Homo sapiens: one gene and its partners. The protein of the gene in region 1 purifies or fractionates together with the protein of each later gene. This does not show direct contact. Each region holds a gene or a part of one and is shown in the gene's direction. Other genes may lie near its edges. The genes, in order: SLC38A12, UBAC2 and ABCB10.

Evidence for each region.
Region 2: the proteins of SLC38A12 (region 1) and UBAC2 purify together in Homo sapiens (affinity purification with mass spectrometry; one large-scale study listed by BioGRID and IntAct). This does not show direct contact.
Region 3: the proteins of SLC38A12 (region 1) and ABCB10 purify together in Homo sapiens (affinity purification with mass spectrometry; one large-scale study listed by BioGRID and IntAct). This does not show direct contact.

Annotation. Positions count from the first base shown.
Region 1 is NC_000017.11:74,782,976-74,786,627, forward strand, and holds part of SLC38A12 (transmembrane protein 104), read left to right. Parts: intron 1-2,506; coding exon 2,507-2,628; intron 2,629-3,652.
Region 2 is NC_000013.11:99,378,771-99,382,422, forward strand, and holds part of UBAC2 (ubiquitin-associated domain-containing protein 2 isoform 1 precursor), read left to right. Parts: intron 1-3,652. UniProt on the Homo sapiens protein: Restricts trafficking of FAF2 from the endoplasmic reticulum to lipid droplets.
Region 3 is NC_000001.11:229,548,587-229,552,238, reverse strand, and holds part of ABCB10 (ATP-binding cassette sub-family B member 10, mitochondrial), read left to right. Parts: intron 1-2,654; exon of another isoform or gene 2,655-2,804; coding exon 2,805-3,005; intron 3,006-3,652.

The DNA of each region.
Region 1 (3,652 bases):
CAAAATTAAGCCAGGCATGATGGTGGGTGCCTGTAATCCCAGCTACTCCAGAGGCTGAGGCAGGAGAATCACTTGAATCCAGGAGGCAAGGTTGCAGTGAGCCAAGAGCACGCCACTGCACTCCAACTTGGGCAACAGAGCGAGACTCCGTCTCAAAAAATAAAAATAAAAATTGAGATTGTGACATCCAAAACTGGATGGTGAAGACTCTCAGACTCACGTCAGAGATAAGCAGGGTCCAGTGCAATCAGCTGGGTGTTCCCATCTCCAGCCTGTGTGCCAGACACCCTGAGAAATGCAGAGAGAAGTGAGACGCAGCCCACGGCCACAGTGAGCTTCATATTTAGTAACAGGGAAAAGAGAAATATGCCAATATCTAAAACCCAAGAGAGGGCATAAGAAGTTTTGTTGCCACAAGGATTCAAAGGCGGGAGGCAGGACAACTTTGGGAGCCTGGGAAGGACTTTGTGGTAGAAGTTGCATTGGAATGGGCCCTGAAGGCTGGGTAGGAGTTGGAGGGGCTGGGGAGGTGGCACAAGAGGGCTTTGGTCCTGTGTCAGGTATTCAGGTACTGCAGGCAGAGCACTTTCCTCTCCACAGGGTGGCCTCCCTTTTGTCCTGCTCTCAAATATCCAGTTAGCACCTGCTGGGAAGCCTGTCTTCTCTAACCACTGCCCAGCCCCTCCTTCTCCCAGCCAATAGCTCCAAGGCAGGAGTTGGCAATCTCTATTTCTTCATGCTTTTTCTTTTTTTTTTTTTTTTTTTTTTTTTTTGAGACGGAGTCTCGCTCTGTTGCCCAGCCTGGAGTGCAGTGGCGCAATCTTGGCTCACTGCAACCTCCACCTCCCGGGTTCAAGCGATCCCCCTGCCTCAGCCTCCTGAGTAGCTGGGATTACAGGCACACGCCACCCCCCAGCTAATTTTTGCATTTTTAGTAGAGACAGGGTTTCACCATGTTGGACAGGCTGGTCTCAAACTCCTGACCTCGTGTTCCACCCACCTCAGCCTCCCAAAGTGCCAGGATTACAGGCATGAGCCACTGCATCCGTCCTCTTCATGCTTTAAAAAAAAAAAAACAAAATTGATGGAGTCTGGGAGAATGGGCACCAATTTTTGTGTTTCTATCACAAATTCAGCATGTGGCTATCTCAGAAAAGCTTTAAAATAGAGAAAAGTGCATCTTTCTAAGAACAGGAGTGAAAATGAGAAATGGGTAAGCATTCCCAGAGATGAGGTGTTTGTCTTTTTTAATGATCAGAAACAGGTGGTAAAGCATACGGTATGTCACCCAATTTAGCAGAGTACAGGAAGACCAGTTAGGAGTCTACTGCACCAGTCCAGGCCGGAAAGACTCATTTGAATTGTAAATAAGGATAGGAGCCAGAGTTAGCCACTAAAGAAGCTCCAGAAATAAAATCACTAGAACTGTGATCTGGAGGGGAAGGAAGGAGGATGGGGCCACTGATGGGATGGATGTCTAGGTGTAGGTGACTAGCAGGCAGCTGGACTTGAGGTCTGCAGAAAGGTTGATACTAAGAGAAATACACCAGGAAAGGAGGCGTGTGCTTGGTGGAGCCTGCCGATTGCACCAAGAAAGGAAGCAGATGATGCCAAAATAGGGGTGGGCTTCTGGGAGGGAGGATTGGCAGGGGAGGAGGCTGGGGGACTGGAGAGCATCACAGAAGGGGAGGAACTCAGGTCAGACAGGAAATTCATGGTTGAGATCTTAGAAAGGGAATCATTGTAAACTGTGGGTTGTTTAAAACCTGAAGTCAGTGACCTGAGAAATCACCCTGAAGTTGGGTGGGCAAGCGGGGAGGGAAGAATGGGGAGTGGCCGCTAATGGAAATGGGCTTTTTGGGGGGTGATAAAATGGAATTAGCTGGTGGCACTGGTCACACAACCTTGTGAATATTACTAAAACCCACTGATGTGTGTACTTTAAATGGGTGGATTTTATGGTATGTGAATTATGCCTCAACTTTTTTTTTAAAAACCCTGAAGTTGGTATGGGGAGAGGGGTGGAGAAAGAGAAGCATGAATATCCGTGTCCCAAAGGACAATGGCGAGGACCTTGAGTCACATGCTCAGTGATCTTGGAAAAGTGGGTGTTTCTTTGAGGTCAGCATTATGCGCTCACCTTTGTGCCAGGTACCCCGCCTATGATGCTCTGTCCCCGGGAAGCCTACAGCCTGGTTGAGTAGAGCGCTAGCATCTGCGATGCAGCTTTAGGAGGGGACGGCAATGATGACAGCAGGAGCAGAGACTGAAACTGAACCCCAGGGCTTGAGTCATCCATGTGTTCATGTTTGGTTAACAGGCTCTGTGGTTGCAAGCCTGGCTCCTTAGGCCCCAGGTGTAATTCTCCTGTCCTGCCTCCTTCCCTGTCTACAGTGTGGCCTTCTGGCCTCCACAGTGGTGCCATCACCAGGGTCGTTCCTTGGGAGCTGTTAAGGGGAGAAGTTGATTAAGTTCCGGGCTTGAATGTTGCCTCTGTCGGTTCCAGGTTGGGCTGGTGTACATGTTTAACCTCATCGTGGGCACGGGCGCACTCACCATGCCCAAGGCATTCGCCACTGCCGGGTGGCTTGTCAGCCTCGTCCTGCTGGTGTTCCTGGGCTTCATGAGGTGAGAGGCAGCGGGGACTTCCCCACAGGGGCCAGGAGTGGAGCAGGAGGGAGTCAGCCCAGGAAGCCCGAACATGAGGGCACTGAGGGGGTGGGAAGACACCTGTCTACCCCGTATCGAGCTCAGTGAGTCCTTGCCAGGGTATTCAGAGAGGGGAAAGTGGTCACAGAGGCCTCCTGGTGGCTTGTCTTTGTGGAGCGGTTGCACAGCCCTGATCAGATAAAAACCTGGACATCCACTAGGCTTTGGAATGTTTCACGTGATGCTGGCCTATTTCTTCCCTGGCAGGTTTACCTCCCTGCTATTAAATGTATGCTTTATTAACATTACCATCAAGTTTTGCTGTCTGAGAAAATACCACCCAGCCACAGAAAAAAGATCTAACAAACATTTAAGGTGACATGGGAAATCAGTTTGGAATTTAGAATTTACTTAAGGTAATTCACGAAGTAGGTGATAAACACACGCCTGGGTGCACGATCAAGTGTGGCACTCGCCTGCTGTGTACCTCCCCAGGTCTTCAGGGACGCCTACTCCTTGAGCCAGGTGTGTGGGCCTCACCAGCCGGTGCTTCAGGGAGGGTGGGTTCCACCTGAGGCTCTTCTCGGGGATTCCCACACACGTAGGGACTAGTCTGAAGTTGTCAGCAAGTGCCCCAGGCCAGGAAGGGGTTTAGGACTAGGCATTTCCATTCTCTCAACCGGGTAGGAATCCACAAGCTGCAAAAAAGAGATGGGAAGGAGCACCTGGAAACACCTCCCCTGAGAGGTGACCCTGCCCCATCTGTGCACCAAGCACCCTTCTGGGTACTGAGGGGGCCTCACCACAAAGATCCCTGCCTGTGCAGACTTGACTTTATGTTGTGGGGAGAAGTGACAGCGAGCAGTGAAGATAATAAATGGGTAAATGGAAGAGTGAGCCGGAAGGCAGTGAGTGCTGTGGAAAGAGGAAGGCGTAACAGGGCGAGGGGACTAGGATGCCGGCTGAAGCAGGGTCAGGGAGGGCTGCATCTAAGCAAGGATCT
Region 2 (3,652 bases), on another chromosome or scaffold:
TGGCATCCTTCACGCTAAACGCCTGTTGAAAATCTTCCATACCCATTCATTTGTTGCTAGCATGTTGTTCAAGAAGGTACTTTTATATTTATCCTTCATTGATCTAAGAATACCTTGGCCACATGGCTGAATTAATGGAGTCACATTTGGGGAAAAGTACATGGCATAAACATGATTTTTGATGAGATGTCAGCTGGAGGATGAACAGAAAAGTTGTCAAGGTATAACAAAATATTTCAGTCATCATCCAGCCCAGCTTCCCTGCAGTGAGCACAAGCCACAGGTCCAAAATGTTTGTGAGACCAATCAGAAAAGATATCCCTAGTTAAACATGCCTTTTTGTTAGCATAATAATGGTCTGGTAAGAAATTCGCTGCTTGAAAACAGCAAGGACACAAACTTTTGCCTGTCATGCAAGTTTACGCTTATGCATGCCTGCTGCATTAGCACATCCCAGCAAAGTTGTTCTGCCCTTGATGTCCTCAGTTCCTGGAGGGGCTGTCTCATTAGCTGTAGTTGTGTCTTTCTGGAGCAATAAAACCAAAACAGTGATGTTCCATCAGCATTATAGACTTGTTCTGGCATCAGATTTTTGTCAGCAATGACCTTGGCAAACTCACCAATGAATTTCTTTGCTGCTTCATGATGCTTTGTCACCACATTAAAAAATTTGGTTTCATGTTTTTTCTTAAATTTCTGCAGCCAACATGTTGAATATTCATAGTTCCTTTTCATTTTCAGTTCCTCATCCTGATAGATCCTTGCTTGTTTCCTGACCCACATAGCATTAAGTGGCAGGTGTTCACTGCAACACCAAGGGATCCATCCTCGGTACATGATCAGGATCTTCATTTTTAGCTTTATGCAGTGTTTCTCTATTTTTCATTAATTTCTGTTTATCACTTTTAGCACAGAACTTCAACAGTTTATCCTTCTGTTTCTTCAGATCCTATATGGTGGTCACTCCAACACCATACTCTCCTGTAAGACGTTTCACACTTACACTGCTCTCCACTTTCTCCAACAGCTTGACTTTCTGTGCTATAGATAAACATAAATCTTTTTCTTATCACTGTTACCCAGAGGGTATCTGCACACCTTTTAGATATTTTAACAACATTTTTATAACACAGAGCAGAAAGTAAGCAAAAAAGCACAGTGAGTGACGCACGTGGGTTTTGGCCCCATGCAGGTCATTGTGGGGAACCTGCCCACTGGCATGTGCTTGCGTGGGGGAGTCGGGGCATGTGCAGAAAAGGCATGTCACAGCTGAAGGAGGGTGAGAGGGTCTCTTTTCCCTTGGAGACACTGAATAAACTACATGTTGTGGCCTGCATTTTGACTGCAGCCCATCACATGAGGTCAGGTGTGGAACTTGCCATTTGTACTGCCATGTTGGTACTCAAAAAGTTTCAAATTCTGGAGCATTTTCGATTTTGAATTTTCAGATTAGGAATGCTTAACGTGTGTTTTGCTTACCTGACTGCACGTCTGCGCAGGCCTCAATTTCGTCTTTCTGTAATTTGAGCACAGGAGTTGATGCTTCACATGCCGAGTAAGCTTTCCCAGGAGAGACCGTAATGAGATGTGTGGGGACTGGGCGTGCTGGGCTTCTCTGAGCAGAGGAATAGTGAGAGCCACAGCAGTAATTGTTAGTGTCCACCAAAGAGCCCTACAGACAACTGTTCTCTGTGCTGCTAGTTTTTGCTCCAGTTCTTACTGTCTATATGGTGAACCTCTGAAACTACATAAAGAAAGGACAGCAGGGGCCACTTGGCTAACTTGCACGGCTGTGAGCACTGCACTGCACCCCTCCACTGGGGAGTATTGGGTAAGCACCCATCGGAACACCTATCCCCTGACCCTTCTCGTCCTTGCTGGCTGGTTGTCATCGCATACCCAAGCCCAAGCATGCAGTTTCAGTTTGCCATGGATGTTTAGTTTTGGACACTATGGGAAACCTTCAGGTGCCCTTTCTTAGTGTAATTGTTTATTCTTTTTAAAGAACTGTGCTAACATTATTGCTACTTAGCAATAGTTTTTAATCTGGTGAAAATAACAGGTCAGTGGGCAGTGAAAGTTCTCCTGTCACACTTGTCTTCTCACCCATAAAAATCACTTAAAGCTCTGAAGCCAGCTTTGGCTAAAGGGGCATGATCTGCCCCGCAGAGGATGAAGAGCGAGCCCGCTGCAAGCTGTGACAGCAGACGCTCTCTTCTGCCAAGACCTGTGAAAAGCCAGTCTTAGTTGTCAAAACCAGCACCGCGGCACATGTCGTTCATGTCTGAGAGAATGAACTCAGAAGGAAGTCTCGTGTACATAGAAAGCTTTCGTTCTTACTCTAGGATGTCACCTACGTGACTTACAACCCAGCCCAGCCATCCCAGACCTAAGGGGTTCTTCCCTCTCCAGGGCAGGGCCTGCATGCAGTCCATGCTGCTGCCCTGTGTTGGTGACCTGTGTGTAGCCAGCCCATTATCAGCATCCTGTGGATTCCAAACCAAATGTATCATCAGTGGAGGGAGAGCTCAAGTGCCAGGTGGAGCTGTGGCCTAAAGTCACACTTCATCACTCCAGATTATGAATCGTCATTTGCCAGATCTCCAAATTGCTGAGTGTGGACAGCAAATGGATTCGTTTGTGCTGGCTGGGTGCAAAGAAGCAGCCAGTCCTCAGCTGCACTTGAAGTACTACAGGTAGTAGTAAAGGTAGCTTTTCCAAGCCGTTTAAATAAACGTCATTAAGAGTGGCCAAGTTGTTTGGGGGCCATGGCATCATGGTGGTGGATAGTAGGTGGAAGGAAGGCAGGCCAGCTCCCGTTTGGCCTGAGTTATCTCCACCAATGACAATGGTCCTTAACTGGAGGGAACATCATACAGGTTATTTCCACCCAAGATTGGAAAGACCACCTTGATCAGAGAGAGTTTTCCTTCCACATGACACATATCCAGCCTGAGTCCTCCAGCCCCTCTCCCTGCACAACCTGATGGAGGCTTGAGAAAGCACAGGGAGGAACACTTAGCTTGAAAATGTTCCTAAGGAAAAGGAAAGTGTGAATTCTGAGAACCAAGTGGCAGAATTGAAGTTTCACATCTGGCAAAAGCTTAAACAGATTATTATCAAATAGATGGTTTGTGAACGTTGAAAAGACAGCTGTGGTCTAGGACACCAAACCAATCCTGTTGGCAAGAGATCACCAAGACCTTTGACAACATCTCATCAGCTTATGAGAGATGTTGGTGACATGCAGAATGGATAATGATAGTGCAATGAAGTGGGTTTGAAACTGATTAAAAATGTTGATTAACCCCTTGAACACAGAGTTCTGGGCTCTTTGACCTGACGTGTTTGACATTTTCATCAATAATAACTTGAACAAAGTTGTAGAGGTTTACTAATCAAATTTAGGCATGATACAAGTTTGAGGGAGATGATTAACAGTAGATAACAAAATGAGAATTGAAAATAATTCATTTTGGTTGACTGGAAAATGATCAGATGGAATTTAACAGAGATATGTAGAGTCCTAGACTTAAAAGGTCAGGTAGGATTTGAGAGACCTGACTTGACAGCATTTTATGTGAAAATTCCTGAGTGTTTTCAGCAGGCCCAGCTTAACTGGCCACACCAGTGATGCAGCTCCTTACACAAG
Region 3 (3,652 bases), on another chromosome or scaffold:
TAACAAGAATCCAGTTAACTAAAAGCCAAAAAATATTTTACTTTTCTTACATTCAAATTGGACAAAGAAGCAAATGACAATAAAACAAGCTGATAATTTTTAAATGATTATTAAAAAGTAAAAGTGTGGGGGGATATCCTGAAATTAATTTGGATTCAGCTAAATTACTTCCTCTTTGTAATCAGCATTATTACTATGTGAGAACAAGACTCAGAATCATAATTAGGGGGCATTTCATTCATGTCATATGGATTCGTATTGTAGAATCATAACTGATTTAGAAAACTAGAGGAGGAGGGAAGAGGTGGACCTTTATATAGCAGGTCACATACACTGTGCTTTCGGAATTATTCACTGAGGCGAAAGAACAGAGATTAGCTACTGATGAAGGACAAAAAGAATTTTCTGCTGAATCCTGAATTTGCCAGGATGACTCTTTCTGGAGCTGCCAGTTCATCGAGGCTGAGGTACTCGGAACCTCAAGTTAGACACACTCCCTGTCCTTTGGGCCTTCAAGCCCCTTTGGGCACTGTTGTAAGAAGCATGGTGCTTTGAAACAAGACCCCGGGCTTTACGTCAAAATGAAGTGACCCTTGCCCAGCTTCCTATTATTCAGTTAGATTGTGATTATGGGATTTTAAGCCAGGCATATGGACTTTATGAGCTGCCAGAATTCACATTTCTGCTTAGGCTATTGAAGAATTTTGATCTGATAGACGTTATTGCTTCCATTGCCAAAGTTCAATTTATTTGTTTGTTCATCCAACAAAATAGTGATTGAGATTCTCCTATGTGCCTGTCACTGTAGGCAATCAGTGACAAAGCAGACCAAAATCTTTTATGTCCTAATGGAGAGAGAAACTAAATAAACAAGTGAAACATTTAGAATGCTGAAAGGTAGGAGCTTCGAGAACACAAATGGAGAGGGAGTGAGGTGGGTAGTGTAGGGTGTCTGTATTTTAAGTGAGGCTGTCAGAGCAGGCCTTTTTGGGGAGGGGACTTTATAAAGACCTTAAGGAGGGGCAAGAGCAATTTTTCTAAATGTTCCCCACTTAAAAAGGCCCATGTTTTTCCTAGAACTCTGTTTGTCGACTAAATGTCCAGTTGGCACTGAGTTTGCTCTGGACTCTTTATTAAGGTTATATAACAGTAATACTTTTTGCTGGGTGCAGTGGCTCATGCCCACAATCCCAGCACTTTGCAAGGCTGAGATGGGAGGACTGCTTGAGGCCAGGAGTTTGATACCAGCCTGGGCAACATAGTGAGACCCCCATCACTATCTTTTAAAAAAATGCATTTGTCTTATTATGAATGCAGTTATCTGTGATATGTGTTGTTACTAATTGGATTTTCTTTTCTTTTCTTTTTTTTTTTTGAGACAGAGTCTTGCTCTGTCATCCAGGCTGGAGTGTAGCAGCACAATCTTGGCTCACTGCAACCTCCACCTCCTGGGTTCAAGCGATTCTCTTGCCTCAGCCTCCCAAGTAGCTAGGACTACAGGTGCGCACCAACACACCTGGCTAATTTTTTGTATTTTTTTTTTTTTTTAGTAGAGACAGGGTTTCACCATGTTGGCCATGGTAGTCTTGAACTCCTGAGCTGAAGTGACCTACCCGCCTTGGCCTCCCAAAGTGCTGGGATTACAGGCGTGAGCCACCATACCTGGCCTATTTATGTGGATTTTCTAAAATTTTTTTTTTTTTTTTTTTTTTTGGAGACAGCATATTGCTGTGTCACCCAGGCTGGAGTGCAGTGGCATAATCATGGCTCACTGCAGTCTCGACCTCCTGGGCTCAAGTAATCCTCCTACCTCAGGCTTCTGAGTAGCTGGGACTACAGGTGCATGCTACCACCCTGGCTAGTTTCTGTATTTTCTGTAGAGACAGGGTTTTGCCATGTTGTCTAGGCTGGTCTGGATCTCCTGGGCTCAAACAATCCACCCACCTCAGCCTCCTGAAGTGCTGGGATTACAGGCATGAGCCACTGTGCCAAGCCAATATTTTCTCTTCAGATAAGACTCTATCTTGTTTGCCTGTTTTTTAGGTGCATGAACAATCCTGTTCATATTTATTTTCATATCATGTTGATATTTCGCAAAGCAATAATACAATATTAAGAAGCAATATATCACATGTTTTATTGACATTTGCTTCTGTGTAATGATCCGTGAAACGGTTTTCCAAAAGTTATCTGGAATGGGTTGTTTGTTTGTTTAAAGCCTGCAGCACCTTGTATTCCCAGGCAGTCTCCCATCCAAGTACTAGTGAGGCCTCGCCCTGCGTAGCTTCTGAGGTCAGACAAGATTGGGTGCGTTCAGAGTGTATGGCCGTAGACAGAGTGTTTTGAGATACTAGATGTAATCAAGGGCTTTAACTAGACAGCTTGATCTTCAAGTTACAATATAGTTAGATGCCAAGGAGTATAGCATGTATAGCATGAATGGAGGAAAAATACAATCTGATGAACACCAAAATCAAGAGATGGGGAGGAAGGGGCTGGCCAGAACGGTTCCATAGTTGGCTCCCAGTTTTTCTTGGTGAGGAAGAGTTGATCAGACTAAGAAGTCATCTTCTCTGATTCAGATATGATCACTCACTTCCTTAGTCAACCTGCTTGTTCTCACCTGGAACCATTTGGTTCTTCCCTTGAGTCAGAGATCGAGGAGCAAAAGGGAGGAAACTGCTAGAGACTGAGATCAACGCATACTCTGACAACAGCTTATTTGGCAAGGAAGCCTCCTGGACTCAGCACCGCAGCCCCTTTGCTGAAGCAACCTGAACATTGAGAGTGCTTGTGTTTTCTAGCTGCGGTTGGATTTCTCACGATGTCCAGTGTTATCTCCATGTCTGCCCCTTTCTTCCTGGGGAAGATCATTGATGTCATCTATACCAACCCCACTGTGGACTACAGCGACAACCTGACCCGCCTCTGCCTAGGGCTCAGTGCCGTGTTTCTGTGTGGTGCTGCCGCCAATGCCATTCGTGTCTACCTCATGCAAACTTCAGGTAACAGTCTCTCCTCTCAGGGATGTGAGTCATCCTGAAGAAGATGTAGAGTCCTGTGGGTTTGTTCGGGCTCAAATCTCATGTGCTCCAGGCTCCATTCTCTTCCTCTCTTCCTGGCATCCCATTAAGTGGGGATAGAGTCCAATGACTGCCCAGATGTTGGAGTTACAGATTATTTTAGATCAAGCACTCTCAACTCTTCTTTTATAGTTGAAGTTGAGCTGTAAGGGCAATCATGTCGGTCTTATGGGAGGTTTGAAAATAAGCCCCTCGGGCTGGGTGCCGTGGCTCATGCCTGTAATCCCAGCACTTTGGGAGGCTGAGGCAGGTGGATCATGAGGTCAGGAGTTCGAGACCAGCCTGGCCAACATGGTGAAACCCCGTCTCTACTAGAAATACAAAAATTACCCGGGCGTGGTGGTGTGTGCCTGTAATCTCAGCTACTCAGGAGGCTGAGGCAGGAGAATCGCTTGAACCTGGGAGGCAGAGGTTGCAGTGAGCCCAGATCATACCACTGCACTCCAGCATGGGGGACAGAGCGAGACTCCATCTCAAAAAAAAAAAAAAGAAAAAAAAAGAAAATGAGGCCCCTGGCCATGAAGCTGGACTTCTGAGGCTTCCTGAAGGCTTCAGAAACCCATTTACAT